3 linked regions of the Homo sapiens genome follow. The main gene of each other region encodes a partner of the protein of the gene in region 3 in a complex. Each region holds a gene or a part of one and is shown on either strand. Other genes may lie near its edges. The genes, in order: NUP160, NUP98 and NUP107.

What was found.
Region 1: NUP107 (region 3) and NUP160 share a complex: the UniProt entries of both Homo sapiens proteins name them as parts of the nuclear pore complex.
Region 2: NUP107 (region 3) and NUP98 share a complex: the UniProt entries of both Homo sapiens proteins name them as parts of the nuclear pore complex.

The regions. Positions count from the first base shown.
Region 1 is NC_000011.10:47,844,080-47,855,114, forward strand, and holds the start of NUP160 (nuclear pore complex protein Nup160), read right to left. Parts: upstream 4,240-11,035; coding exon 4,140-4,239; intron 3,881-4,139; coding exon 3,769-3,880; intron 1-3,768. UniProt on the Homo sapiens protein: Functions as a component of the nuclear pore complex (NPC). Involved in poly(A)+ RNA transport.
Region 2 is NC_000011.10:3,695,981-3,706,112, forward strand, and holds part of NUP98 (nuclear pore complex protein Nup98-Nup96 isoform 1 precursor), read right to left. Parts: intron 9,377-10,132; coding exon 9,220-9,376; intron 8,859-9,219; coding exon of another isoform or gene 8,766-8,858; intron 6,913-8,765; coding exon 6,483-6,912; intron 4,860-6,482; coding exon 4,630-4,859; intron 3,369-4,629; coding exon 3,102-3,368; intron 1-3,101. UniProt on the Homo sapiens protein: Plays a role in the nuclear pore complex (NPC) assembly and/or maintenance. NUP98 and NUP96 are involved in the bidirectional transport across the NPC. May anchor NUP153 and TPR to the NPC.
Region 3 is NC_000012.12:68,723,071-68,733,202, reverse strand, and holds part of NUP107 (nuclear pore complex protein Nup107), read right to left. Parts: intron 7,477-10,132; coding exon 7,407-7,476; intron 6,705-7,406; coding exon 6,586-6,704; intron 5,853-6,585; coding exon 5,814-5,852; intron 2,094-5,813; coding exon 1,943-2,093; intron 1,597-1,942; coding exon 1,484-1,596; intron 567-1,483; coding exon 464-566; intron 1-463. UniProt on the Homo sapiens protein: Plays a role in the nuclear pore complex (NPC) assembly and/or maintenance. Required for the assembly of peripheral proteins into the NPC. May anchor NUP62 to the NPC. Involved in nephrogenesis.

The sequences.
Region 1 (11,035 bases), on a different chromosome or scaffold from region 3:
TTTCTGTATACTCCCCATCCAATGCAACAGTAATTCTAACAAATTCACCTTGAAAACATATCCACAATCACAACATTTCTCACTGCCTCTGTCACTACCACCCTGATCTAAGCCACCATCATGTGTGAATTGTGGCACCAGCCTCCTAACTGGTCTCCCTGCACCTACCCTTTCCCCCACCACGCTCTATTCTCAAGACAGCAGTCAAAGCAATCCTTTAGAAGCCCAGATCTTAGATCACGTCATTCCTCCACTTTAACCTTCCACAGCTTCTTCTCATCTTACTCAGAGCAAAAGCCAAAGCTTAAAATAACCAACAAAGCCCTGATCTGGCCCTCAACTATCTCTTTCTTATTATTCTACCCTTTGTTCACTCAGCTGCAGACTCCTGGCTCCTTTCCACTCTTTGAACACAACAGGCTCCTGTTTCAGGGTTCTTTGCACTTTTTATTCCTTTTTCTTGGAAGGCTCCACCTGAAATACTCATTCCCCAGATATCCTTTCTTCTGCTCAAATGTCAGCTTACCCCTGGCTCTTGCCCAACCACCCTACATAAAACATTAACTCCCACAGGTATTCCTCTTCCCTCTTATGCTGTTCCCTTTTTCCTATTCCATTAATCAACTGACAAACTGTCAGAGGCATGTGAACCAGAACAACTCCATCTTGAATAGGAGTTGGGTAAAACAAGACTGAAACCTACTGGGATGCATTCCCAGACAGTTAAGGCATTCTAAGTCACAGGATGAGATAGGAGGTCAGCACAAAATACAGGTCATAAAGACCTTGCTGATAAAACAGGTTGCAATAAAGGAGCAAGCCAAAACCCACCAAAACCAAAATGGCGACAAGGGTGACCTCCAGTTGTCCTCACTGCTACACTCCCATCAACGCCATGACAGTTTACAAATGCCATGGCAACATCAGGAAGTTACATCAGGAGTCTAAAAAGTGGGGGCATGAATAATCCACCCCTGTTTAGCATATCATCAAGAAATAACCATAAAAATGGGCAACCAGCAGCCCTCGGAGCTACTCTGTCTATGGAGTAGCCATTCTTTTATTTACATTTTTTTTTGAGATGCAGTTTTGCTCTTGTTGCCCAGGCTGGAGTGCAATGGTGTGATCTCAGCTCACTGCACCCTCCACCTCCTGGGTTCAAGCTATTCTCCTGCCTCAGCCTCCCAAGTAGCTGGGATTATAGGCATGTGCCATCATGCCCAGCTAATTTTGTATTTTTAGTAGAGACACGGTTTCACCATGTTGGTCAGGCTGGTCTCGAACTCCTGACCTCAGGTGATCCACCTGCCTCGGCCTCCTAAAGTACTGGGATTACAGGTGTGAGCCACCATGCCTGGCTTCCTTTACTTTCTTAATAAACTTGCTTTCACTATGCACTGCGGACTTGCCCTGAATTCTTTCTTGTGCGAGATCCAAGAACCCTCCCTTGGGGTCTGGATCGGCACCCTTTTCCTGTAACAAAACTGCATGTACTTGGGGTTTTTTGGTTATTGTTGTTGTTGCCTATCTTCCTCCATAAGAGTAGGGACTTTGTTTTGTTCCCTGCTATATCCCTGTTCCCTAAAAACGGACTGAAATACATTAGGCAAGCAAATTTTCTTTCTTTCTTCCTGTTTTCTTAAAAGAGATGGGGTCTTACCCTTTTTCCCACCTGGAGTGCAGTGGCATGATCGGATCCTCCCACCTCAGCCTCCTGAGTAGTTAAGATGAAAGGCACACGCTACTCCGCCTGGCTTATTTTAAAAAATCAGGCTGGACACGGTGGCTTACGCCTGTAATCCTAGCAAGTTGGGAGGCCGAGAACGGGGCACTGCTTGAGTCTGGCAGTTCAAGACCAGTCTGGACAACAAGGCAAAACCCCATCTCTACAAAAACAAATAGAAAAATTAGCTGGGCATGGTGGTGCATACTTGTAATTCCAGCTACTTGGGAGGCTGAGGTGGGAGGGTCACTTGAACCCAGGAGGCGGAGACTGCAGTAAGCCATAATTGCACCAATGCACTCCAGCCTGGACAATGGAGCCAGACTGTCTCTCAAAAAGAAAAAAAAAAAAAAGCAGAAAGAAAAAAAAATTTTTTTTGTAGAAATGGGGTCTTGAACTCCCGGCCTCAAGAGATCCTCCCACCTCAGCCCCCCAAAGTGCTGGGATTACAGGTGTGAGCCACTGTGCCCAGCCAAAATATTTAATTAAATGAAATTTGTATCTCTAACATAAAGTCACTCTTTTGAGCCTTAGACCTGTAAACTTCAATGCCTACTTGACATTTCCAAAGGGCTGCTCCCCAGGTACTTCAAATTTACTATGTCCAATAGAATTATTCATATCTATCCAAAATCCATCTTCCGGGTATCTCTGTAAATGGCAACCCCTCCCCACTCACATCTGGTTAGTCACATGAGACACCAGGGAGCTGTCCTTGTTCTCTCTTCTTTTACCATCCCTTACCCCATATTCAATCCACCACCAAGCCCTAGTGAATCTATCTTCCAAAGGTATCTTGAATCCATCTACTTTTCTATTTCTAGTCATTCCCACAATTGAGCCACCAGCAACCCTTACTTGGGCCATGATAAAAGCAAAATTTTTTTTGTATTATACCCATCTAATCCAAATCCACTTTCCACAAAGTAGACTGAGATCTTCTAAAAATACATTTAAAAAAATTTAGATTCAGGGGTACATGTGCAGGTTTGTTACATGAGTATATTGTGTGTATATTCCTATATACATGAGGTTTGGGCTTCTGATGATCCTGCCGCCCAAGTTGTGAACACAGTATCCGATAGGTTTTCCAACCTTTGCTCCCCTCCCTCCCTCCTTTTGGAATCCCTAGTGTTAACTGTTCCCATCCAAAAATGCAATTTTGATGTTAGTAACTCTTTAAAAATCTTTCAATTATTACTCAATGTACTTAGGATAAAATCCAAAAATCCTTAAAAATGGCCTAAGGGTCCCTCATGGTCCGAGTCCTGCCTACCTCTCCAGCCTCAGTATCTCACATCACTTTCTGTTTTACCCACTGCACTTAAGCCACACAGATCTTTGGTCAGTTCCAAACCCGCCACATTCTTTCCACTTCATGACCTTTGCATATGGTGATCCTACTTGCTGGACTCCTCTCTGTCCACTCCCCATGCCTGGCTAACCTCGTGTCCTTTAGATCTCAGGGTAACTGTGAATTCCTTAAAGCCTTTCCCTGCCCCACTAATTATATTTGGTCCTCTTATTAGCCTCTCATAACCCGTATATTTTTCCTCTAGGGCAAGTTTTCCTCCAAAAAATTTCCCCATGAAAAGTGGGTCTACATCTATTCTGACATTGCTACAACGTCTTGCATGATGAAAATTGCAGTTTTGTTCATTTCGTCCTGGTACCTAGCACAATGCCTGACATATTGAAGCTCGAACGTATTTGTACAATGAAGGAAGCTGTAAAGCACTATAAAAACATAACGGGTTCATGTTTAAAATTGGTCTTATGGGCTTTATTCCCCTAAGCTACATTTCCTCTGCTTCTGGTGTTGCTTGGTGTATGTGTGTGTGGGGGTGGGGGGGGGGAGGGGGAGAGGTATCTCTTCTAGAACTCTGTGTCTCAGTTTTCCCGATTCTGATACGAACTGAAAAAACAATCTTTCTCTTTCCCTAAGTGTCAATTACCGCTTCTAGAATAGCACTTTGGGTACAGCGACGAAAATTTATACACCAAACCCTACCTTCCAGGGGAGTTTGGCGAACCACAACACTTACCAATGAATGAACCTGTTTCTGGTTACGGAGAACAACTTGCCACTCTCCACGTAGTAAAAGCCTCCCGCGCTTTCACTGTATTTTACGGCGCCAGCCACGGCATTTGCAGTCCCTGCAAAATGAACGTGGTCAGCCTGCACACGCGTCTTCTGAGAAATGACAGGGACTAAGGGAGCTGACAAAGCAGAGAGTGACAGACTGACAACCCATACAAAGAAAAGAGGAAAACGTCGGACATCAAGGAATCTCTGATCCCGGGGCTAGAGGCATGTGGACTCAGGAGGATGAAACAGGGCGTCAGGGACCCTGGGACCCATGAGAGGAGCCCGAGGGGACAGATGGGATCGCACCCTCCCTGGCCATTTCCGTACCAATGCTGCAGACTGTGAATTCCCGAAAGTGCCTCGGCCTTTCGCGCTCAGCTCCGCTTAGCTCCACGAAGCTCCGTTCCAGGGCTCCCGCCGCCGCCATCTTCCCGCCGTCGCCGCGACGCCCAACGGAACAAAGGCAGGGCCGCGCGGTCGCCGTCACTTCCGGGGGTGGGGCGGGCGGAGCTGCGGACAGGTGAAGCATTCCGGGAGCAGAAAGGCGGCTCCGGCCCTTCGTTGCGAGGCTTCCACCGGGAGAATGAGGGTGGGCAGCGAGGAATCCAGAAGAGAAGGGGGCAGGGGAGGCAGACTCTATCTGCGGGAACCTTCCAGTGGCCGGCTGGAACGCCTCCGGAGGGCGGTGCTCTTTTCTCAGCGGCCGCAGGGCAGGGGGCGGGGCCGGGTTTGTTTCTGTTTCTAAAACGCGGGGCTCAGTCGACCAGGAGGGGCGAGGTCCGGGGAGTCCCGGCCTTTCGGCGTCCTCTGCCGGATCCCGGGTTTATGGTCACCTCTCCCTCGGTTAGGGTGTCCGTCTGTAAATCTTTGGCGATCCTCCCTTCGCTCTTCAGTGGCGACACTTGGGATGGCGGGGTGAGGAAGGGGTAGTGAGGGAAAGGCCTTTGGTTTTGGTCTTTCCCCTCCCCAAGAGACTGTATTCGTGTATTCCTGTATAATGAAACGTAATGTGGTAAACCTTGGTGCTGCCACTTGCTGAGGTTACCTGAGTGCTACTCACTTGGATACGTGAAAGGAATTTGCCATTCCTTCCACCCGTGATCTTGCACTTGGCTGTCAATGCAGTAAGGGCCCATAGTGGGTGTTTAGAAGATATTGTGGGAGTAGATGTTCAAAATCGAGGAAAATGCTAATCTCCAGCGGGGAAGGTTTTGTTCCTTAGTGATAGCCAATAGAAGTTAAAGCACTTCTATTACCAGTGACCACAACCATTCCCTGTCATTCTCCGTTTCATTTATCTGGTTCCGACCATCATTTTCTATCTTTCCACTTCACTCCCTCTGGGACACCAACTTTGGCAGTGCAGTCCCCTCATTCTACCTGGAATCCATTGTTCTACAAAATCTTCACTGTCCCACACTTCTTTGGTGTTTCTTTCTTATCCTGAATACCATTAAATTACTTCATTGCCTAACTCTTCATCGGTAAAAACTACAACTTCGACTACATTCAAATCTGTAGCTGAACATGACTGGAGAAAACTATACACCCGGGTCGGGCGTGGCTCCCAGCATTTTGGGAGGCCAAGGCGTGAGGATCACTTGAGGTCAGGAGTCCGAGACCAGCCTGGCCAACATGGTGAAACCCGGTCTCTACCAAAAATAGAAAAATTAGCCGGGCGCGGTGGCTCACGCCTGTAATCCCAGCGCTCTGGGAGGCAGAGGTGGGTGGATCACGAGGTAAGGAGTTTCAGACCAACCTGGCCAACATGGTGAAACCCTGTCTCTATTAAAGATACAAAAAATTAGCCGGGCATGGTGGTGCACGCCTGTAATCCCAGCTACTCGGGAGGCTGAGGCAGGAGAATCGCTTGAACCTGGGAGGTGGAGGTTGCAGCGAGCCAAGATCGCGCCACTGCACTCCAGCCTGGGTGACAAAGCGAGACTGTCTCAAAAAAAAAAAAAAAAAGAAGAAAGAAAAAAAGAAAAATTAGCTGGGCATGATGGTGCGCTCATGTAATCCCGGCTACTTGGGAAGCTGAGGCAGGAGAATCGCTTGAACCCGGAAGGTGGAGGTTACAGTGAGCCAAGATCTCGCCGTTGCACTCCAGCCTGGGCAACAAGAGCGAAACTCCGTCTCAAAAAAAGAAAAGAAAGAAAACAGAAAACTATACACCCATACTGACATGCCTCCCTGTAACTCCATCAGGACCATGTACCTTGAGTGGGCCCATAATGCTGCCCAGCAAACACATTGTATTTGCCTTCTCCATTTACTGTTCTAAATGAATATTTCATAACTCCTATAACCTCCATTGCCTCCTTTGTCATCCTGACTCTCAGCTTGCTTCTTCATTTAGAAAATTAAAGCAGAGGCTGAGATGGAAGGATGGCTTGAGGCCAGGAGTTCAAGACAAGCCTGGGCAACATACCCCCATCTCTAATAAAAATTTTTAAAAAACTAGCCAGGCATAGTTGTGTGCCTCTGTAGTCCCAGCTATAGGAGGTTTCTTGAGCCCAGGAGTTGGAGGATACAGTGAGCTACAATCCTGCCACTGTGCTCCAGCATGGCCAGAAAGACACCCATCTGGAAAGAAGGAAGGAGGAAGGGAGGACTTCCTCTATAATGACATCTCCCCACCTACCAGCATCTGTAACCACATATTTTGCCTTCCCTTCCTGTTACTATAAACTGTCTCTGAGCTTATGCAGAGACAACCTTTCTACTTCCTTAGAACACCTGCTCAAGGACATCATTCTAGCAATTCAATTATTTCCATTTTCAGTCTTTTCCCCTTTTCTCTTAGTACTGTATGTACTAAGCATACAAACATTCCCTCGACCTCCACTCTCTGCAGCTACTACTCCATATCTCTTCTCCTCTCACCCACAGCAAAACTCAAGAGTGTTTTAATTCCTTCTCTCTCATTCTCATATATATATATATATATATATATATATATATATATATATATATATATATATTTTATTGAGATGGAGTTTCGCTATTGTTGGCCAGGCTGGAGTGCAATGGCACAATCTCGGCTCACTGCAACCTCCGCCTCCTGGGTTCAAGAGATTCTCCTGCCTCAGCCTCCCAAGTAGCTGTGATTACAGGCATGCGCTGCCCTGCCTGGGTAATGTTTTTTGTATTTTTAGTAGAGACAGGGTTTCACCATGTTGGTCAGGCTGGTCTCGAACTCCTTACCTCAAGTGATCCACTTGCCTCGGCCTCCCAAAGTGCTGGGATTACAGGCGTGAGCCACTGCATCTGGCCTCATTAAATCCATGTTTTTCAGGCTTTTGCTTCTACTGCCTTGCTGAAACTGCTTTTTTCCGGGTTATCAATGGCATCCACATTATCTGTCTAATACTAAACTGCTATTTCTTTTTTCTGACACATAATCTTGCTCTGTTATCCAGGCTGGGGTGCAGTGATGTGATCCCAGCTCATTGCAGCCTCAAACTCCTGGGCTGAGGTGATCCTCCTGCCTCAGCCTCTCGAGTAGCTGGGGCCACAGGCTTGTGCCACCATGCCCTGCCAAATTTTTTATTTTTTATTTTTTGTAGAGACAAGGTCTTCCTATGTTGCCCAGGCTGGTCTCAAACTCCAGGCCTCAAGCGATCCTCCTACCTCTGCCTCCCAAAGTGCTGGGATTACAGGCGTGAGCCACAGCACCTGGCCTGAACTGTTATTTCTAAGCTTATTTGACTACTTGTAGAATTTGACCAATTGCTTGCTCCTTCCTCGTGGAAACACATTCTTCATGTGGCATCAAGGACGCCACTCTCTTGATTCTACCTATTTCACTAACTGTTCCTTTTCAGACTCCTTTCCTAGATGCTCCTCTTTTCCCCAACCTCTTGATGTTGGAGTGTCCAGAGTTCAGTTCTTGGTCCTTTCCATCTACAAACACTCCCCTGAGAATCTCACCCAGTCTTCTGGCTTTAAATACTGCATTGTTATATGCCGATCATCCCCAAATGTATACCTCCAGTCTAAGCTTCTCCCCCGAAGTCCAGGTTTATATATTCAACGGCCTATTTTGTATCTTAGATGTAACATGTCTGAAACTGAAGTCCTAACCTCTCTCCCCACACTTACTTTCCCCATCGCAGTTACCAGCACTGTTCCAGTTGCTCAGCCTCCTGAGTAGCTGGGATTACAGGTGCTTGCCACTACGCCTGGCTTATTTTTTTTGTATGTTTAGTAGAGATGAGGTTTCACAGTGTTAGCCAGGATGGTCTCAATCTCCTGACCTCATGATCTGCCTGCCTCGGCCTCACAAAGTGCTGGGATTACAGGTGTGAGTCACCGCGCCTGGCCACACTTCAACTGTTATTATTTACAAATTCCTGGTTATCTAAGTTATAACTGCTCATGACACTGATGTGCCACAGTAGAGAGAACTATTCCGAAGACTGATTATTTCCACTTTCATATCTAGAGGTCAGACCTCTTTTGCCGAGTTCTCAGCCTTTTATATTCAGTTGCCTCCTTGATGCCCCTTGGATTTCCCATGGACATCTCAAATTCAACATATCCAAAATGTTACCCCTCTCTATATAGTCTCACTATATACTCTCACATGTAGTCTATATCTGTGTGGACATCACCACTGTGGCCCAGTCTAGAAATCTAGTAATTACCCTGGACTTTTCTCTTTTAATCCCAACACCCAAATCTCATATATCCATATGGCAAAAGAAAGATGGCCACAAATTCTTTGACATTGTTCCCATCCAGAAGTGTAGCCTTCTTTGTCCCCTCCCCTTAAATCTGGAGGGTTCTGTAACTGCTATAAGGAATATAATACAGCAAAAGTGATGCTGTGCCAGCCTAGCTTAAGAGAGTCTACATCTCTCTTTGAAGACTGGCTATAGGGGAAGCAAGCTGCCATGTAAGAAATTTGGCTACGCCGGGGCCATCCTAGGCAGATTGCAGGGAGAGACCACACACAGAGACTCTAATTCTACTTGAAGTGAGAGATGCCTGGTAAGTCCCCAGGTCCCAGATATTTTGTAGAGCACAGATGAGTCATGACCACTGAGCCCTGTCCAAATTGCATATTAATGAGCTAAATACATGATTGCTATTTTTATTTTTATTAAATTAAATTAATTAATTAATTAATTTTGAGACAGAATCTCACTCTGTCGCCCAGGCTGGAGTGCAGTGGCTCAATCTTGGCTCACTGCAACCTCCAGCTCCTGGGTTCAAGTAGAGGTGGGGTTTTACCATGTTGGCCAGGCTGGTCTCGAACTCCTGACCTCAAGTGATCCACCCGTCTCAGCCTCCCAAAGTGCTAGGATTACAGGCATGAGCCACCGCGCCCGGCCTCAATGTACATATTTAATGTAGTAATGTTTTTTCATTTTTTTCTCAGAAAAAAATGTTAAATTGATGAGGCATGTTTCGGTTTTATAGGAATCTAGGAATTACATTTTTTGACAGTGAACACTTTTTAGCTTTAGATCACTGTCTTATCTCCAACATCCATCAGAATTCCGGGAACTTCACGTTACCTAATAAATGTTTGAGGAATAATTAAATGAATGAATAAGTGCATATATGCATTTTTGGAAAACTCAAATACCCTTTGAACTATTAATGTTCTGGGGGATGGTTATAACATAAATTGAATCATATTGCCATCTAGTGGTTAGGTAGTGACTTCGTTTAGAAACAAAATGCAGAATGTTACCAATATTGTGCAGCAAGTTTTATTTAAATACTTTTTTTTTTTTTCAGATGGAGTCTCGCTCTGTTGCTCACACTGGAGTGAAGTGGCGCGATCTCTGCTCACTGCAACCTCTACTTCCCAGGTTCAAGCGATTCTCCTGCCTCAGTCTCCTGAGTAGCTGGGATTCCAGGCACGCACCACCACACCTGGCTAATTTTTGTACTTTTAGTAGAGATGGGGTTTCACCATGTTGGTGAGGCTGGTCTTGAACATCCGACCTCGTGATCCGCCCGCCTCGGCCTCCCAAAGTGCTGGGATTCCCGAAGGCGTGAGCCACCACGCCCGGACTTTTTCTTTATTTTTTTTTTTTTGAGACGGAGTTTCGCTCTGTTGCCCGGGCTAGAGTGCAGTGGGGCATGATCTCAGCTGACTGCAATCTCTGCCTGCTGAGTTCAAGTGATTATCCTGCCTCAGCCTCCTGAGTACCTGGGATTACAGGTGCCCGACACCACGCCCGGCTAATTGTTTTATTTTTAGTAGAAACAGGGTTTCACCATCTTGGCCAGGCTGGTCTTGAACTCCTGACCTCGTGATCCACCCACTTTGGCCTCCCAAAGTGCTGGGATTACAGGTGTGAGCCACTGCGCTCAGCTGAACAATACTGTTAATTGAACTTTAAGCAGATTTTCATAACCAACTTGATAGCTACTCCTTGAAAGAAGAATTTGGTGGTTTAAACAAGTGTGGGAAATGATGATAAATAAAGTTAAACATATTTCTTTCTTGAAGAACTTTTCAAAGACATTAATATAATAGCTTTGTGAAGTTCCAAGAAGGCCTTATGCATGATACTGCTTTCCAGACTCTTTGACATACAGAATACTCTTTTCAAGGGGCAACTCATTGGACCATTGTTCTTTGAGAATATATTTTGGAAAACATGGCTTTACTTTCATTTTGCCCATAGGTTAAAAATATCAGCTGGGCATGGTGGCTCACACCTACAATCCCAGCATTTTGGGAGGCTGAAGCAGGAGGATTGGTTGAGCCCAGGAGTTTGAGACCACCCTGGGCAACATAGTGAGACTCCATCTCTACAAAAAAAAAAAAAATTATCCAAGTATGGTAGTGTACACCTGTAGTTTCAGCTACTTGGGAGGCTGGGGCAGGAGGATCCCTTGAGCCCAGAAGTTCAAGGTTATAATGAGCTATGACTGTGCCGCTGCACTCCAGCCTGGGTGACAGAACGAGACTCTGTTTCTAAAAAAAAAAGCAGAATTGTGGAATAAATGAAGTATGTCAGTGACTTCTCAATTCCGTTTTCAGTATTCTTTCTACCCACTTAGGAAACCACCATGACTTTAGACTCCAGGGCCTTTGAGGGGCCCTGAAAGCCCAGGGCTCCCACCTAGACTTGACCCTCCTGTGCTTTGGACTTATCCTTGGGAACTATACACCCTGGATTGTTTTCACCTTTCAGGTAATATTTTCTATAAATTTCTCTTTTTTTACTTTTTTTTTTTTTTTCTGAGACAGGGTG
Region 2 (10,132 bases), on a different chromosome or scaffold from region 3:
CACGAGTTCGAGACCAGCCTGACCAACATGGTGAAACCCCGTCCCTACTAAAAATACAAAAATCACCGGGCGTGCTGGTGCACACCTGTAATTCCAGCTACTTGGAAGGCTAAGGCAGGAAAATCACTTGAACCCATGAGTTGGAGGTTGCAGTGAGCCAAGATCGCACCATTGCACTCCAGCCTGGGCAACAAGAGCGAGACTCTATCTTAAACATAAAAAGGAAAAATGGAGGAAAACACTGGGCACGGTGGCTCACACCTGTAATCCCAGTGCTCTGGGAAGCCAAGGCGGGCAAATCACTTGGGGTCAGGAGTTCGAGACCAACCTCGCCAACATGATGAAACTTTGTCTCTACTAAAAATACAAAAATTAGCCTGGCGTGGTGGCACGTGACTGGAGTCCCAGCTACTCAAGAGGCTGAGACACGAGAACCACTTGAACCCAGAAGGCAGAAGTTGCAGTAAACAGAGATTGCACTACTGCACTCCAGCCTGGGTGACAGACCAAGACTCTGTCTTGGTGCAGGGGGGAGGGAAAAAAAAAGGCCGGAGGCAGTGGTTCACGCCTGTAATCCCAGCACTTTGGAAGGCTGAGGCAGGCGGATCACCTGAGGTCAGGAGTTCGAGACCAGCCTGGCCAACATGACGAAACGGCATCTCTACTAAATATACAAAAGTTAGCCGAGTGTGGTGGCACGTTACCTGTAATCCCAGCTACTCAGGAGGCTGAGGCAGGAGAATCGCTTGAACCCAGGAGGCAAACGTTGTAGTGAGCCAAGATTATGCCACTGCACTCCATCCTGGGGTACAGAGCGAGACTGTCTCGAAAACAAAAACAAAAACAAAACAAAAAACAAAAAAAAAGGGGGGGAGTAGTAAAGCAAAAGCTTTTAGTAACCTAAAAGGCAGTACCTTTACCAGAGGTTTAGCCTTACAGTCAAAATAAACAGGAAGAAAGTGGAGTTTATGAATCAACAGCCCTAAGAATCTGACTCTGGCATGCCTTAAGATCCTCTCCTACTACATGTTGGTGTCCTGGTGAGCATAACCTTTTTTTAATGATTCATAATAAGTTCATACAAGATCAATCCCAAAGATAAATTCTCACTGTACAAATGCACAAAGACCATAAATAGTACCAGACGGAGGCTGGATGTGGTGGCTCACGCCTCTAATCCCAGCACTTTGGGAGGCTGAGGCAGGAGGGCTGCTTGACGCCAGGAGTTTGAGACCAGCCTGGTCAACATACAGACCCCATCTCTATTTAAAAAATAAAAAGAAAAGAAAACAGGAAGCTACCAGGCTAAATGTGTAGTGACAGTGGAATGCAACAAGCCCTTTATATAGCTTACTGATTCTGGCTTTTCCTGTGATTTGTTCCTTATAATCCCAAAAGTGGCAAAACTCTTCAAAATAAATCCAGTCGATGGCTCCAATTAGTTGGCTTTGGATAAATTAGGTTCCAACAATCAAGGTTTGAATAAGGATCTGATCATATTAGATTAAGCTGAACTATGCCATCCTGTATTCTTATCAAGACTTTATGGCCAGGCACGGTGGCTCATGCCTGTAATCCCAGCACTTGGGAGGCCAAAGTGGGTGGATCACTGGAAGTCACGAGTTTGAGACCACCCTGGCCAACATGGCGAAACCCTGTCTCTACTAAAAATAAAAAAAAAGACAACTAGCTGGGCATGGTGGCAGGCACCTGTAATCCCAGCTACTCAGGAGGCTGAGGCAGGAGAATCGCTTGAACCCAGGAAGTAAAGGTTGCAGTGAGCTGAGATCGTTCCACTGCACTCCAGCAGTCTGGTAAACACACAGACAGACTCTGTCTTAAAAAAAAAAAAAAAAAAAAAAAAAGATTTATATCTAGGCAGTCATTAAGTACTTGCTGAATTGCCTCATTAGTGAAAGGGAACTTAAAGAAGTAAATATATGCATATAAATTCCTTTTAAAAAGCCAGTGAGTACCTCAACCCAGAAATTCAACTTCTATATATTTATTTGAATGAATTGATATAGAACATATTTTATAGCAATTCAGAGTACTGTTTATAGTTTTAAAAAAAGTCTCAATGTGAAGGAAGAAATTTACTACTATGGTACATTTATACATAAAAGAATGCTAAGAAGTATTTGATAATTATCTGTATTACAGGGCATTTGTAATGTGCCACATGAAAAGAACAGAATATAATACACAGCAGGATATCACCTTTGAAAAGTTCACAAGCATATGTCACAGTGTCTGGACATATTTGTATGTATTACAAAGTAAAGAATTAAGTACAAATTGCACATTAAAATGTTTGCAGTGAGTAGTAGTCACAGGATTTGGGTGATTTTGATTGATAGCTTATCTATGCTTTCTAGTTTTATTACAAATGTAATATAAAATTTAAATTTTAATCAAGTAAACAATGTTTAAGGTCCTAAAAAAAGAATTAGAAGACATAGTTCGGCTGGGTGCAGTGGCTCACACCTGTAATTCCAGCACTTTGGGAGGCCAAGGTGGGTGGATCACCTGAGGTCAGGAGTTCGAGACCAGCCTGACCAACATGGTGAAACCCTGTCTCTACTAAAATACAAAAATTAGCCAGGTGTGGTAGCAGGCACCTGTAATCTCAGCTACTTGGGAGGCTGAGGCAAGAGAATCGCTTGAACCCAGGAGGAGGAGGTTGCAGTGAGCCGAGATCGCACCATTGTACTCCAGCCTGGGCAACAAGAGTGAAACTGTCTCAAAAAAAAAAAAAAAAAAAAAAAAAAGTCATGGTTCCTATTCTATAGGAATAGGTGGGTGTGATCTACCCACCTTGGCCTCCCACAGTGCTGGAATTACAGGCATGAGCCACTGAGCCCAGCCGCACTATGTCTTCTAATTCTCTGTTTAGGACCTTAAACATTGTTTACTTGATTAAAAGTTAAATTTTATGTTATATTACATATTCCACGGGAACCAGCAATCTTTCTGGGAAGTCCGCAATTAATACTCATAGGCTAGAAGCCAAAGGGAAATGCACAATTAGCGGGGAGCGGTAGGAGGCAGTGAGTAGGAAGGCGACAGAGGCGCAGAGAAGGACCATATGCCTTCCCCACCTGACTGCTGGGCCAGAGAGCAGGCCTCACTGATCCTTTTGCCTGTGAGGTAGCTGAATACAGCCTCCACAGGGCTGTTTTTTTGGGTTAAGGAGACTTCCTCTTCAATCTGAGGTGTGGCAGTACAGGATAGCCAGCGGGAGAAAGCTCTTCTTCGCTCCAGAATTTGAATGTATTCACGGGGTTCATTTAGCTGGCTGTCAAGCTCCTTCAGGTGGCCCCATAGGGCTTCACATAGTGTCCATGTCAGGCTCCAGTGCTTCACAACTAAGGCAGGAAGAGAAAAACAATGTTACGAGACAAAGTCTTACAACAACTTCACAGAGGGCATCCTTCTAACTGTGATGTTAAAAATACATAAATTAATAGACATCTCAAACAACCACTCAAGCTGATTACCCTGAATCTGTCTCTACCTCACTCAACTTCGTCTTACAATTTCCAGAAGTACATAGTATAAATAAATGCTTGCTCATATCATGTTTCTGTGGTACTTACATAACAAATGTAACCGTTAAACAGGTTCCCCAAGCCTAATTATGGCTAGTGTCATCTCAGATGATATCTACTTTGATCAAATTCTGTCTATAAAAATCAATCTACAAAAGTACTGTTTATCATTTAAGCCACTTACAAGTATGCACTGGTAAAATAACTTACACATTTGAAAAGACAATGAGACGATTAAGTAAATACAAAGAACTGAAGGAACATAAACAAATCTCAAAACGTGTGGCATAGGACATTCTAAAACAGCCCATTTTTCAATAAACGTGATTTGCTAAACAAAATGATTTTTCTACTGTTTGAAATATTAATAAATTAGATAACCCCTTTATCAAAGTATTGATTCAGAAAAACATGGTCATGATAGATGAGAAAGGTAATCTTGAAAGAAGCCAGGAAGAGGAATTACAACAAAGCTGTTGAGAAGACCAACAGTACTTGAGCTGGATATGGAAGAATGGATAGGATTTAGAAAAGCAAGAAGGGGCCGGGCTCGATGGCTCACGCCTGTAATCCCAGCACTTTGGAAAGTCGAGGCAGGCAGATCACGAGGTCAAGAGATCGAGACAATCCTGGCCAATATGGTGAAACCCTGTCTCTACTAAGAATACAAAAATTAGCTGGGTGTGGTGGCGCGCGCCTATACTCCCAGCTACAGTGACAGAGTGAGACTCCGTCTCAAAAAAAAAAAAAAAAAAAAAGTAAAGCAAGAAGGAATGTATTTCTCTCCCTATGTTCTCTGGATTAGGTAAGAAATTCAATTTTATAAATCCAAGGATTTGACTTGCTACAGTTCTTTGTGGAAGAATTTGTACATTAATGGGTAAAAGAACAAAGTGACAAGAACATAGTGACAATTTCTTCTTGCTTGGGAATCTGCTTAGTTAAACTCAACCTCAGAAAATGACAAGCACAGGCATTTACCTACTAGACTGGTGCCAGGAAATTCATCCTCCCGTGAACATACGCTACCACCACTATTATTGGGACATCAAACATTAGAAACATAGTGTGTACTCACTTTGTGCTTCTGGTAAGTCTCCTGATGCTTCTTTAACCCAATCTGCATAGTCATGAATGACAGCAACTCCCAGATTGGGGACAATGAGAGGACACAGTTCATCCACATGGACAGTGCTGTGTTTTAATTTGAGCTCCAGAGGTGTCTGATATAATTTCATGTCTTCATCTGGCTTTCTTTGTCTCAAACTGAGTTTTTCTAAGTGAACTTTGAATGGGGACTCAGTTAGGCTACAAGAGCAAATGAGGAATAGAATAGAAAATGAACCTAAGACAGAAGCTAGGATTTTTACTTCAACCAAACCACTGTTTCTTTTTATGATTACAAACGGAATGCAAACATTTCACTGTAGTTTTAAAGAAATTTTGTTTCTTAAACTATACTGAACTTATCTGCTATATACTGGGGAAAAAAAATCATCTGATCAGTGCATTCAGAACACAAAGGCTTCTTAGGCCAGGTTATAACAAGCATGAGAATCCTAACAGATTTAGAACTGGCTAAAACTCAAGGGCCAAAAGCTATTGTGGGATACCTGTTTCTCAAATTATACTTGGGTATCAAAAGTCATGAGGCTAAGCTTCTAGATACTAAAGAACTGATTCTAAATTACAATGAGCATATAGCTAAGCTAGGCTTGTTCCAATTTTTTTTTTTTTTTTTTTTTTGAGATGGAGTTTCACACTGTCGCTGAGGTTGGAATGCAGTAGCGTGATCTTGGCTTACTGCAACCTCTGCCTCCTGGGTTCAAGGGCGATTCTCCTGCCTCAGTCTCCTGAGTAGCTGGGATTACAAACATGCACCACCACCCTGGGCTAATTTTTGTAATTTTAGTAGAGACAGGGTTTTACCATGTTGGCCAGGCTGGTCTCGAACTCCTGACCTCAAGTGATCCTCCCAAAGTGCTGGGATGACAGGTGTGAGCCACCGTACCCGGCCCCTTGATCTAATTTTTAAGATTGATATTAATAACCTTCAAAATTCACAAGATAATGCTTAACCTAGAATAACTAAGTTTAGGATCAGTATTCTTAATTGTGAGGTTCAAGAGACATTGTTGTTTTTTCTTTTTCTTTTCTCTCTTTTTTTTTTTTGAGACTGAGTCTCATTCAGTTGCCCAGGCTAGAGTGCAATGGCGCGATCTCAGCTCACTGCAAGCTCCGCCTCCCGGGTTCACACCATTCTCCTGCCTCAGCCTCCTGACTAGCTGGGTCTACAGGCGCCTGCCACAACGCCCAGCTAATTTTTTTTGTATTTTTAGTAGAGACAGAGTTTCACCGTGTTAGCCAGGATGGTCTCAATCTCCTGACCTCGTGATCCGCCCATCTTGGCCTCCCAAAGTGCTGGGATTACAGGTTGTTTTTTATTTTTTCAAAGTCAACTTTAAAAATGAAGGATAGGCTGGGCAAGGTGGCTCATGACTGTAATCCCAGCACTTTGGGAGGCCAAGGTAGGACAATCACTTGAGCTCAGGAAACATTAGCTGGGTGTGGTGGCGTGTGCATGTAATCCCAGCTTATCAGGAGGCTGAGGCAGGAGAAGAGCCTCAGACTGAGAGGCAGAGGTTGCAGCAAGCTGAGATCGTGCCACCGCACCCCAGCCTGGGAAACAGAGCAAAACTGAGACTCAAAAACACACACACACACACCGGGGAAACAGAGCAAAACTGAGACACACACACACACACACACACACACACACACACTCTCTCTCTCTCTCTCTCTCTCTCTCTCTCTCTCTCTCTCTCTCTCTCTCTCTCTAGAAAGATGACAAAGCAGGGCCCTATCCTCCTGATTAGTTTTTTTCACCTATCATGTTGCCTTTCTCAAAAAGCATCAAGAAATGTGACTCACGGTTTAACAGCTACTGGATTGGGCAGGAATCCAAACTCCATGGAATCGGCAATCTGATGATTTTCTAGTTCATGAGAGCCATTCAGCTGTTCTCCACTATTAGCAAGAGTCCAGTTGGGGCCCCAACCAACACGAAATGAGCGTCCCATGAATAGGGCCATGTCCATCAAGAGTTTTCCCTTGCCATAGGTGACAGACTTTTCACGAGGGACTAGGCCTAGTTGCCTACGTGTACCCACTGTTTTCAACGGAACCTCAGGGGCTGGGCTGGGCATTGTGAACACAGAAGTCAGGGGTGGAGGGACAGACCAAGAGGATGTGGATGGGATATTCATTAAAGATGCTGCTCTGGGAGTACGACATTCTTGCACAGAGACACTTGGTGAAAGAAAAGCTCCACTTGTAAATTTTGATTGTAGTAACCCACCAACTGAAATGAAGCGGGAATGAAGGGGAGAAAGACTATTACAAAACACAAGCTATTGTTTCTTGAACAATAACAAAAATCAGTAAGGCTGAAATCATTCAATGTTTAATCAAACTACTTATATCAGATGTGGATGACCAGAAGCAGGCTAAGTCAGATTTTGCAGAAATTACTCTTTGAACTAGGAAATCAGGACAAGATTCTAATGATGATGATGATATCTACAACAATAATAAAAGCAACAACACTATTAATATTATTTAAAAATATGCAGCAGGCTCTGTATAAGTCATTTGTATATGTTATTTCATTTCACTCTTCAAAAACTTTTTTTTTTTTTTTTTGGAGACAGAGTCTCGCCCTGTAGCCCAGGCTAGAGTGCAGTGGCATGATCTTGGCTCACTGCAACCTCTGCCTCCTGGGTTCAAGCAATTCTCTGCCTCAGCCTCCCGAGTAGCTGGGATTACAGGTGCCCGCCACCATGCCTGGCTAACTTTTCTGTATTTTTAGTAGAGACAGAGTTTCACCATGTTGGCCAGGCTGGTCTTGAACTCCTGACCTCGTGATCCACCTGCCTCAGCCTCCTAGAGTGCTGCAATTACAGGCATGAGCCACTGCACTTGGCCTCAAAAACTTTTAAATGATTAGCATTATTATCATTCCTATTGTATATATGAGAAAACTGAGCTCAGATAAGTGACTTGTCCAAATCTACAAAGTGACAGGACCAGGAGACAAGCCAAGGTTAAGTCTGGCACCACTCCTCATGCCCTTATCAGAATCCTAAAGGTAACGATTTCTTAGCACATATAAAAGTAAGATCAAAACTCAAATTCCTACTCTACTCTAAACAATGCTACAGTCAACGAAATAAAAACACACTAGGTATCTTACAATTGTACATGTGACCTTCTGAAGGACAGTTCTTTAAAAAAAAATTTTTTTAACATTTAAATTTTTATCTAGCTAGCTAGCTATTATAGGGATGGAGTCTTGCTATGTTGCCCAGGCTGCTCTCCAAATCCTAGCCTCAAGCCATCCTCCTTCCTCAGTCTCCTAAAGTGCTATGATTATAGGCATGAGCCACTGTGCCCGGCTGAAGGACAGTTCTTATTACCAGTGCCTGTTTCCCAATTTTACGTGGCTTTTGTCTAAAGCATGGAGTTAAATATTATTGAAGTACCAGATTTTCATGTAGTATCCATTACGGAAAAGGTTATTAAGAATGTTTAACTGATACTTTTTTGGTTAATATATTTTCTTTCTTTCCTCTATACCAAAGGGAAGTTAAAAATATTTTTAAAAAGCAAAGTTGATAATAAGGGAACTCAAAAGAATTGAAAAATATTTAGTTTTTAAAGCAATATAAACAAATGTCTCTCTGCCAGTTCCTCTGGCTTTCAAAATATGTTGAAACTACATCTGCTTAAGTTCTTTGCTGATATTAAAACTTTATTTCCAATCCCACATAGTTACAAGCCCACTAGAAAAGAGAAAACTTTAAAATCAAATATGTAATCACTTCCCTGGGAATTTAAAAAGGTTTAGTGAAAAGTAGAAATCTGATGTGCTCTGTGCATTACGAGAAGCAATACTTGTCCCTAGAAGACAATAAGACAGTGCTGTAAGGACTGCACAAAACAAGTATAGTGCAGGACAACTTGCTGAACTAAGTAATGTTATAAAAATTGGGAAGTCAGAGCTTACTATCTAATCCACATTCATAAGCAAACAAAAACATGAACCTAAACAAAGCACAAATGCTTTTTTTCTCCATACACTTCTGCATCTGCACAAACAGAGGTAATTCTAGTTCTTAAAAACCGGCCACTCCTGCCAGGTGCAATGACGCATACCTGTAATCTCAGCACTTTGGGAAGCTGAGGCAGGATGATCAGTTGAGGCCAGAAGTTCAAGACCAGCCTGGGGCAAGATAGCAAGATCCATCTCTATAAACATTTAAAAAAATAATTAGTTGAGTAGTGGGTATATGCCCATAGTCCTAGCTACTCAGGAGGCTGAGACAGGAGGACTGCTTGAGCCCAAGAGTTCAAGGCTGTAGTAAGTGCGACTGCATAACTGCACTCCAGTCTGTGCAACAGAGAGAGACCCTGTCTCTAAAAACAAAAAACCTGGCTACTCTTAATGAATACTTATAAGTACAATTTCTCTTAGCACCCTTATGTCACAGGTATAGTTGTTTGGCAGATACTTGCTAGAGAAGTCCACTTGGGTTAGAAGAAGAAAAGTGAAAAGCAGGACTTGATGACTGTACAGCTTTCTTGTAAAATAGCATCTTTTATACTGTACCTAGTGAACGAGTTTTCGACGAGTGGGATGCTGAAATGGGGAGTCTGGGAGAACAGATTTCTTGAGAAGTATCTGCTTTGGAAGGCAGGCGACTGAAGCGTTGATCCAGTGCCATATCTACATCTTCTTCATCAGTAAGCAATGATGCTTTCATGATCTAAAAAGGCAATATCTATAGAATGAATGTGCTTCCCAGAATCAAAAGGCCATACCAAAAAAAAATGCAGTTTACAACAACCAAAAATATTGTTCCTCCTCAAGGCTGTGTACAGAGCTAGTATATTTGTGTGATGGATGGACCCCATTACACTGTGTGTGCCTGAAAGGCAGAATTCATATAATACTTCTCTTCTTTGTATCTATAGCGTCTCACCAGAGCCTGGCACACAGCAGTTGCTATGTTTGCTGATAAAATAATTTTAAAGTCAAACATAAGCCAAAGGTTAAACACATAACACACCAAAAGGCACTGGGATAAAGGGAAGTAAAGACATAGCTTAAAGAAACCTGTGCTACTAGGTACTAAAATTTTTAAATTTTGTGGAGCACATACAGAGTCTTAAAAGTACCCTGTGATGTAGACAAAGTAATATTTTATAGAGAAAAATCAGTACTCACAGCTATTATATGACTTGCACAAAGTAATAAAGTTACAAAATTGGGATTGGGGCCGGGCTCAGTGGCTCATGCCTATAATCCTAGCACTCTGGAAGGCCAACGCGGGCAGATCACCTGAGGTCAGGAGTTCGAGACCAGACTGACCAACATGGAGAAACCCCTTTCTCTACTAAAAATACAAAAAAAAAAAAAAAAAAAAGTAGCCAGGTGTGGTGGTGGTACACGCCTGTAATCTCACCTACACAGGAGGTTGGGGCAGGGGAATCACTTGAACCCAGGAGGTGGAGGTTGCAGT
Region 3 (10,132 bases):
ATTTTTCAAAGTCGGATAGCCTTGAGATTATTTGCAAAATTGATTAGGACAATGAAAATTCACCATTAAAATATATTTTGTTTCATAATACCAGGTTTGATAGATAAAGAGTGGCTGGTTTTCTCCTCCCTATGGAAGGATCAAAAACAAAAAGCAACCCCCCACCCCAAATTCAAAAATACACGAATTTGAACAAAAACGTTTTAAAAAAGAATAAAAAATCTGGGTGTGGTGGTTCACGCCTATAATCCCAGCACTTCAGGAGGCTGAGGTGGGAGGATTGCTTCAGGCCAGGAGTTCGAGACCCGCCTAGGCAACATAGTGAGACCCCATCTCTAGAAAAAATTTTTTAAAAATTAGGTGGGTGTGGTGGTGGGTGCCTGTAGTCCCAGCTACTTGGGAGGCTGAGGTAGGAAGAAGAATGGAGCCCAGGAGTTTGAAGCTGCATAAAAATATACTATACCCAAGAATTTTCTCATAATTGCATTGCCTTGTTTCAGTGCTTCTGCCCTCTGCGCTGGGTCAAATACCAACCAGTCAATTACATCAATTTTTAAACGATCCTCCTATTTATTAAAGGGGAAAAAAAGAAAAAGGAATATCAGAGTTTTTTTTTTAAAGATATTCTACAAATTAGTAGAATTAACTTACACCTGTACTTCCAGTAAACATCATTTTCTCTCAAGTTATACAAAATTATGAAAGCATCTAACTTTCCTTAGTGTATTTTCATATTTAACAGCTCTCTATTAAATTATAGAAAATACTGCTGGGCATGCTGGCTCACACCCGTAATCCCAGCACTTTGGGAAGCCCAGGCGAGCGGATCTCTTGAGCTCATGAGTTCGAGACCAGCCTGGACAACATGGCAAAACCCCTTCTCTACAAAGAATACAAAAAATTAGCCAGGCATGGTGGCACATGCCTGTAATCCCAGCTACTCGGGAGACTGAGGGAGGGTGGCTTGAGCCTAGAAGGCGAAGGTTGCAGTAAGCAGAGATAGCGCCACTGCACTCCAGCCTTGGTAACAGAGCTAGACCTTGTTGTCTCAAGAAAATAAAAATAAAAATAAATTATAGAAAATATTAATCTGGAATTATATATTGTATGCCTTACCAACTTAACCACGTGATTCCTTTAAATGTTACTCTAAAATAGTTTTCTTAGATATAACTTTCTATTCCTTTCTGAAAATATGAGTAAGCAAGCTACATAAGTTAGTGATTAATCAAGTATTTAAAATAACCTGATGAGCAACAAGCCAAAGCTGAGATTTTTTTCTATTAAAGAAGCTCCTTTAACATACTACTATAAGTAATCCTTTACATAAGACTTTAAATTTAAAAGGTCTGGGCTGACAAAGACACATTCTTAAAAAAGAAAACCTAATAGAACTTCTTTTACGAAGGGAGAAGTTCACCAAGGAATAACATAAAAGATTATTAGAAGTTATAGAAACCTCTGCCCCCCCATCCCAAATTACCTCAGTAGTGCCAGTATCTAGGGCTGGGGCCAGGTCATGATGACTAAATTCACCATTATCTTTCTTTCGAATATTCTCAACTACAGTTTTTGTTATTGTTGCAACATCCAAATCTAAATAATTTTTTGAAGCGACAAAAAACAAAGATTAATCATTGATACTAATATTCTCTAAATAGTCATAATGATTCAGTAAATTTGGAACAGTAATTCCTTAAAAATAAAATATGTAAAATATGAAAGATATTTATATAAAAGAAAATGCCAGAATTAAAAGATATTTTACATATGAGTTACAGCATAAGTAACTTTAGTCCTAAAACAGAAATTCCCTGAAAATTTTATTCCTCTTTTCCCCTCAACAGAAATAAGATTTAAAACTATAAGGACAAATGTTACTACAGCCAAAATGAACATTTGCCTAGAAAGGCCAAAAGACAAAGTTTTCAACCATTTTTACCTGCTTCTTTAGCCAACTCCAGGCAATGGTGGCGCTGTTCAAATTCTGTAACACTTTCCAAAAATAATGCATACTGGGCAACAGCTAGGTCTTGAGGCAAATGACAGGTATAAAATGCTATAAGATTTGTATGTTTCTCTCTTATTAAAAGCTAAAAAATAGAAAAAGATCAAAGTATGTCAATAATAAAATTAAAAGTATACTTCAAAATTTCAAATGTATTCAGGAGAGGTTCATACAGATGTGGATTTGTGTTGCTAAACAGAATAATTTTATTTTATATTTATTTGTTTGAGACAGGGTCTCACTCTGTCACCCAGGTTAGGGTACAGTGGCATGATCATGGCTCACTGCAACCTGTCTCCTGGGCTCAGGTGATCCTCCCACCTCAACCTCCCGGGTAGGTGGGACTACAGGCACATGCCACTATGCCCTGCTAATTTTTTGTATTTTTTTTTAGTAGAGATGGCTTTTCACTATGCTGCCCAGGCTGGTCTCAAACTCCTGGGCTCAAGTGATCTGCCCACCTTGGCCTCCTAAAGTGCTGGGATTACAGGCATGGGCCCCTGTGTCCAGCCCAGAATAATTTTAAATTCCAAAAAGTGAGTACAGTTGGCTCTTAAACTGCACAGGTTTGAACCGTGGATTTTTTTCGATAAATATATTGGAAAATTGGCTGGGTATGGTGGCTTGCGCCTGTAATTCCAGTACTTTGGGAGGCTGAGGCAGAAGTATCACTTGAGACCAGGCCTGGTAGCTCTTGCCTATAATCCCAGCACTCTGGGAGGCTGAGGCAGGCGGATCACCTAAGGCCAGGAGTTCAAGACCAGCCTGGCCAACAAGACAAAACCCTGTCTCTACTAAAAATACAAAAATTAGCCAGGCGTGGTGGCGCATGCCTGTAATCTCAGCTACTTGGGAGGCTGAGGCAGGAGAATCACTTGAACTTGGGAGGTGGGTTGCAGTGAGCTGAGATCATTCCACCACACTCCACATTCCGGCCTGGGTGACAGTGAGACTCTCTCAAAAAAAAAAAAAAAAAAAAAGGTAGTATCACCCCTGAGGGCAGGAGTTTGAGATTAGCCTGGCCAACATAGTGAGACCCAGTCTCTACAAAAAAATAAAAAATAAGTTTGCTGGCCATGGTGGCACGTGTCTATAGTACCAGCTACTTGGGAGGTTGAGGGGAGAAGACTGTTTGAGCCCAGGAGTCTGAGGTTACAATGGGCTATGATCTAGCCAGTGAACTCTAGCCTGAGTGACAGAACAACATCCTATCTCTAAATAAATAAATACATTAATTTAAATATATATATATTAGAACATTTTTTGGAGATTTGTGACAATTTGAAAAATATTCATGCTTGAACCCAAGAGGCAGAGGGTACAGTACAGTGAGCTGAGATTGCGCCATTGCACTCCAGCCTGGGCGAGAGAGTGAGACTCCGTCTCAAAAAAAAAAAAAAGACTCACAAACAAATTAATAGCCTAGAAATACTGAGTAAATTAAGAAAAAGCTAGGTAGGCCAGTGGCTCACACCTGTAATCCTAGCACTTTGGAAGGCCGAGGCTGCTGGATCACCTGAGGTCAGGAATTTGAGACCAGCCTGGCCAACGTGGTGAAACCCCGTCTCTACTAAAAATACAAAATTAGCCAGGCGTGGTGGTGCACACCTGTAATACCAGCTACTTGGGAGGCTGAGGCCAGAGAATCGCTTGACCCCGGTGAGGCAGAGGCTGCAGTGGCAGTGAGCCAAGATCATGCCACTACACTCCAGCCCGGGCATCAAAGTGAGACTCCATCTCAAAAAAAAAAATAAAAAATAAAAAAAAAGGTATGTCATAAATCCATTATATGTAGATTCTGGTCTATTTTATCACTTACTACTATAAAATATATATGAATCTATTATAAAAAGTTAAAATTTATCAAAACGTACACACATTTACAGACCATACATTGTGGTCTAGAGAAATGTAAACAAGCATACAGATGCAGTATTAAATCATAACTGCATACAACTAACTGTAGTAGATACTATACTACTGTAATAACTTTAGAGCCACTTCCTGCCACTACTGGGGTGAGCTCAAGTGCTGTGAGTATCCATTTAAAATGCCGTGTGATGCTAATCATCTCTGAAGAGCTGTTGGTCTCTTCAGTTGCATACTGCAATAAAAAGTAAGCTTTCCCAGGTCTTGTTTTTTTTAGTGCAATACTATAAACCCTTAATAACACCACAGGAGCCATACAAAGTGCCAGTAGTGATACTGGAAGTTCTCCCAAGAAGCAGAGAAAAGTCATGAGATTACAAGAAAAAGGTGAATTGCTTGATATACTGTAGATTGAGGTCTGTAACTGTGGTTGTCCATTTCAAATAGACAATTCATCTTGTAAACAGACAACATAAACTTACAGTATTAACAGGTACAGTATAGTACTATAAACGTAGTTTCTCTTCCTTATGATTTTTATTATTTATTCTTTTTTTAACTTTTAAAAGTTATTTATTAATTTTTAAACTTAAAAAAAAAAAAAAAGACAGGTCCAGGCCGGGTGTCGTGGTTCACGCCTGTAATCCCAGCTCTTTGGGAGACTGAGGGGGGTGGATCATGAGGTCAGGCGTTAAAGATCAGCCTGGCCAACATAGCAAAACCCCATCTCTACTAAAAATACAGACAATTAGCCAGCACCTTTAATCCCAGCTACTCGGGAGGCTGAGGCAGGAGAACCGCTTGAACCTGGGAGGCGGAGGCTGCAGTAAGCCGAGATGGTGCCACTGCACTCCAGCCCGGGTGACAGCGCAAGACTCCGTCTCAAAAAAAAAAAAAAAAAAAAGACAGGTTTTCGCTGTTTCCCAGGCTAGTCTTGAACTCCTGGGCTCAAGCGATCCACCCACCTCTGTTTCCCAAAGTGCTGGGATTACAGGCGCAAGCCACCACGTCTGGCCTGATTGTTTTTTTTTTTTTTTTTTGAGATGGTCTCACTCTGTCACCCAGCTGGAGGGCAGTGGCGAGATCACAGCTCACTGCAACCTCCAACTCCTGGGCTCACTCGATCTTCCTGCCTCAGCCTCCCGAGTAGCTGGGTTTACAGATATGAACCACTGTGCCCTGCTAATTTAAAAAAATTTTTTGTAGTAGAGAGAAGGGTCTCCCTATGTTGCCCAGGCTGATCTCAAACGTCTGGACTCAAGCAGTCCTCTCGCCTCTGCCTCCCAAAGTGTTGGGATTACCGGTATGAGCCACCTCGCCGAGCCCCTTATGATTTTCTTAGTAATGTTTTCTTTTCTCTAACTTACATTATCATAAGAATACAGTACAGTTGAGCTTTGAACAACACGGGATTGAACTGTGCAGGTCCACTTCTGCATAAATTTTTTTCAACTCAACTTAGAAAATACAGTGTTATCTGGATGTGAAATCTGCAAATATGGAAGGCCAATTTTTCGTATATGCAGGTTCTGCAGGGCCAACTGTGGGACATGAGTATACACAGATTTTGTTATATGTGGGGGTCCTGGAGCCAATCCCCCAAGTATACTGAGGGATGACTGCATATGATACATGTAATATACAAAATGTGTTAATTGTGTGTTTATGTTATTGGTATGATTTCTGGTCAGCAGTAGGGTATCAGTAGTTAGGTTTTTGGGGAGTCAAAAGTTATAGTGAATTTTTGATTGTGCGGGGCGGTGGGGGTTGTTTTCCTAATCCCTGCATTATTCAAAGGTCAACTGTGCTGATAATTAAAAGATCTCTTATGGATTCTGATGCTTTCTTACCACTGAGAATTAAAATAGCATCATTCTGAGTTTTGTTTTCATTAAAATAGTAAAAAACAATCAGGTTGTAGGTTCTCAAAGTTTACCTGTATGTATGTCTTTAAAACTTCAATAGAAACTTCCTCCTTCATAGGAAAAAAAGACATAATTATAAATACACTGCTTATATGAAAGTAACAAAATTTTTGATACAAATTCCATTATTAAATAATTTAATAATTGTAATGTTTACCACTGAGCAGTAACTATACACCAAGCTAAGTGCTTACCAAAGTTCATCTACTGCCTGATTTAACCTTACCATAACTCTTTTTGGGTAGTTACTATTATTGTTCACATTTTACAGAGGATGAAATTAGGACCAAGGGAAGTTTTATTTACCCAGAGTTACACAGATAGAAGCTGCTGAATAAGGGTATATACTCAGGACTCCTACTCCAAAGCCCAAGCTTTCAACTACTGTATCATTCACTTTCTACATGCACTCTGACCAAAATGTTATCTTCTTTTTTAGAAAAAAAGCAACAAAACAACAACCAACAAAGTTTTAAAATCTCACATAGCACTCACTTTGTTTAGTTAGCTTAGCTGGTTGATTTAAAGCTGGGTACAGACAAGGATAAAGTTATGAATTTATTAAAAACCAGTTAACCAACAGCATTCTGTGGCCACAGACTAGAACCCTAAAGGGCCACTCTCAGTGAGTTATCATTGAGTGACTATACAAGACTATATGGAAGACTTTTGATTCCTTATCACCATTTCTAGAAAACAATAATAAAAAAAGTAGTGTTTTCTTGACAATAGGTATATAGCATCAACATTACAGAGAAGAAGAAATCGTTCATTTTTATATACCTTGGTCTGTAGTCCCAGAGTACGGAAAAACAAAATAAGGTGAGTCATAAAGCGAAGCAGGTGTCCAGGTAGATTGTTTCTGCTTTTGGAAAGCCATTTGCTAAACTCATCCATCAAACCTACAAGCCATCAAAGTGAAGATTCAACAATAGGAATAAAATCAAAAGAAAAAAATAAACATTACCAAGAACATTTATTTCACTCCTATAGTGCTTTCAAGTCACTGTCTCATAATTAATAGCCATGATATAACTCTACACCCTCTTTGAAACAGAGTTTGGGTTCAATCCGAACTTTATTTTATAAAAACCAAATGAAAGGTCACCTCTGACATAAAGTAAATAGTTGCATTCAAATAGGTTAATATTTATCAAGATTAAAAGATATGGTAAGTCACATGCATTGTTTGGATAACTTTAAAAAATCACTATAAGACAATGAAGAACTCATAAAGAGTAAAATAAAACTGGCTGGGTGCAGTCGCTCATGCCTGCAATCCCATGTCTATAACATATAGCACTTTGGGAGGCCAGGGAGGGAAGATCACCTGACGTCAGGAGTTGGAGACCAGCCTGGCCAACAGCGAAACCCCGTCTCTACTAAAAATACAAAAATTAGCCAGGCGTAGTGGTGCACACCTGTAATCCCAGCTACTCAGGAGGCTGAGACTGAAGGATCTTGTGAACCCAGGAGACAGAGGTTGCAGTGAGCTGAGACTGAGCCACTGCACTCCAGTCTGGGCAACAGGGTGAGACTTTGTCTCAAAAAAAAAAAAAAAAACACACACAAAAAACACAAAGTAAAATAAAACCATATCTTACCATCAATGTCTCCCAGGATAAGAAACTTTTGAACTATATGATAATGTTCTTGATTCTCTTCCAGAACTCTCTGAAAAAAAAGTTTTTAATTTTCCATAAATCTTCTAGCAGTCATTCTGTAGTATATATTCACTGTTAAACTAAAAATGTTAAACTTTTGAAGGAACATATAGAAAGAAAAAGCTGGAAATGAAGGGCCTTAGAAAGATCAAAACAAAATAAAACATGGAAAGGATACTGCCTTTGGAATATACTCACAGCTTACAAATCCAGAACTGAAAAGCATCTTTGAAAGTAGAGACCTATGTTATAACAATTTAATCTCTCAATGGTATTAAACTTTTATTCTTATATTTTATTCCTATTTACCTTGGCACTACACATGGTGGACGAGAAAGGAAGAACTCATGTGACCTAAGCAAAATAAACTATTAAGATTTCTTTCAACATGAGCAGCAGTACATGAAAGCATTCTTTGAGTATTCTCTTCTGTACATGGCACCAAGGGTGAAAAAAAAAAATAGTGATCAGGTACAGAGTAGAGAAAACCTTTTCTAACTTATTTGCAGCTTGATTTTTTGAAGAATATAGTTCATTTTTTGTTGTCAAACGTATTTTAATTTTTATTTAGTTGGCTGTCTAAATTTTCTTTCAGCATTTATTAATTTTTACATTCAAACCTTTGCTCTATATGGAATTTATTTTAGTTACATGGCATGAAGTAGGATCTAGCTTTGTTTTCTTCTGGATGGAAAGCCAATTATGCCAGCGCCATTTATTTAAATAAACCATCCCTTTCCCTCTGAAATGAAATGTCACCTCTGACATCTGTTAAGTTCTCATATATACTTGGATCTAGTTTGGACTTTGTGTTCCACTCATCTATTTATTTTCATGTCAGTTCTATACTGTTTTGTTGTATCTTCATATTAAGTGTTATTATTGAGTAAGGCAAGTACCCTCTAACTACTTTTTTTGCTTTCAGTGTGGTTTTTTTTGTTTGTTTGTTTGTTTTTGAGACAGAGTCTCACTCTGTTGCCCAGGCTGGAGTGCAGTGGTACAATCACGGCTCACTGCAGCCTCCACCTCCCTGGGCTCAGGTGATCCTCCCACCTCAGCCTCCTGAGAAGCTGGGACTACAGGAGCATGCCACCACACCCGGCTAATTTTTAAAATTTTTTTTGTAGAGATGGGGTTTTGCCATGTTGTCCATGCCGGTCTCAAACTCCTGAGCTCAAGTGATCCTCCTGCTTCAGCCTCCAAAACTGCTGGGACTAGAGGTGTGAGCCACCAAACCCAGATTGTTCTTTTTCAAAATGCTCTTGCCATTCTCAATTATTCTTCTACTTGACAAAATTTTCTGTCCAGAAGTAATACCCCAAAGCATTAGGTTTTTATGCTAATTTTGGAATGAGTGACATTTATATTAAATGCCCTCATCGAGGAACATGATATATCTATTTATTTATGTCTTATTTTATGTCCTTCAGTAAGATTCTATAGTTTTTTAAATGAAGGGCTTGAAACCCTGGATTAATTTTTTATTCCTAGATCTCTTTAGTTTTGGTCACTCGTTTAAATGGAACTTTTGGGGAGGGGGTACTAAATCCTTTTCTAAATAGTTATAACAAGCACAGAAAGACTTGACTTTTAAAAAAAAAACGTTGTCTTGTATCTGGCTACTTTAACAAATTCTCTTATTAATTCTAGTAACTTACTGAGCTTTAAGTTTCTAGACTAATATTTTTATCATATATAAATGTTCTTCCCTTTCTAGTATTTATATCTGTTCCTTAATTTTCTTGTTTTATTTCATTAGCTAGAATATCCAAAATAATAGACTGGTAATAAACTCTTGACAGAAAAAGCATTAATTTCCTTACTATATCAAGTGCTCCTATATAATAATAAGAAAAATATAAAACACCACAGAAAAATAGCTAAAAGATATGAACAAAAAATTCACAAATGGTCAATAAACATAAGGAAACATGCTCAGCCTTATGAATAGACAAGAAAATGTGAGTAGAACAGCAAGTTCCTATTTCCCACCTACTCTGATGGATTGGCAAAACATAAAAAGTGTGACATTTGAGGCTGGTGAGAATGTATAATTCAATAAATTACTTGTGGAAGTATGAATTAACTGCCACAACCAGGTAATAAATTATTTTTCCATTTCAATTTTTTCTTTTTTTTTGAGACAGAGTTTCGCTCTTGTTGCTCAGGCTAGAGTGCAACGTTGCGATCTTGGCTCACTGCAACCTCTACCTCCTGGGTTCAAGTGATTCTCCTGCCTCAGCCTCCCAAGTAGCTGGGATTACAGGCATGCAGCATCCATTTCAAAATGTTTCTTTACCTACCTACCTACCTATTTAATTTTTCTTTTTTCTTTGAGACAGGGCCTTGCTCTGTTGCCCAGGCTGGGGTGCAGTAGTGCAATGACAGCTCACTGAAGCCACGACCTCCTGGGCTCCAGTGCAGTAGTACAATCACAGCTCACTGAAGCCACGATCCTCCCACTTCAGCCTCTGGAGGAGCTGGGACTACAAGTGGGTACACCACCATACCCAGCTAATTTTTTTTTTTAGAGACGAAGTTTTGCTATGCTGCCCAGGCTGGTCTAAACTCCTGGCCTCAAGTGATCCTCCCATCTTGGCCTCCCAAGTGCTGGGATTACAGATGTGAGCCACCATACCTGGCCTTTTTATTTATTTTTATTGTAT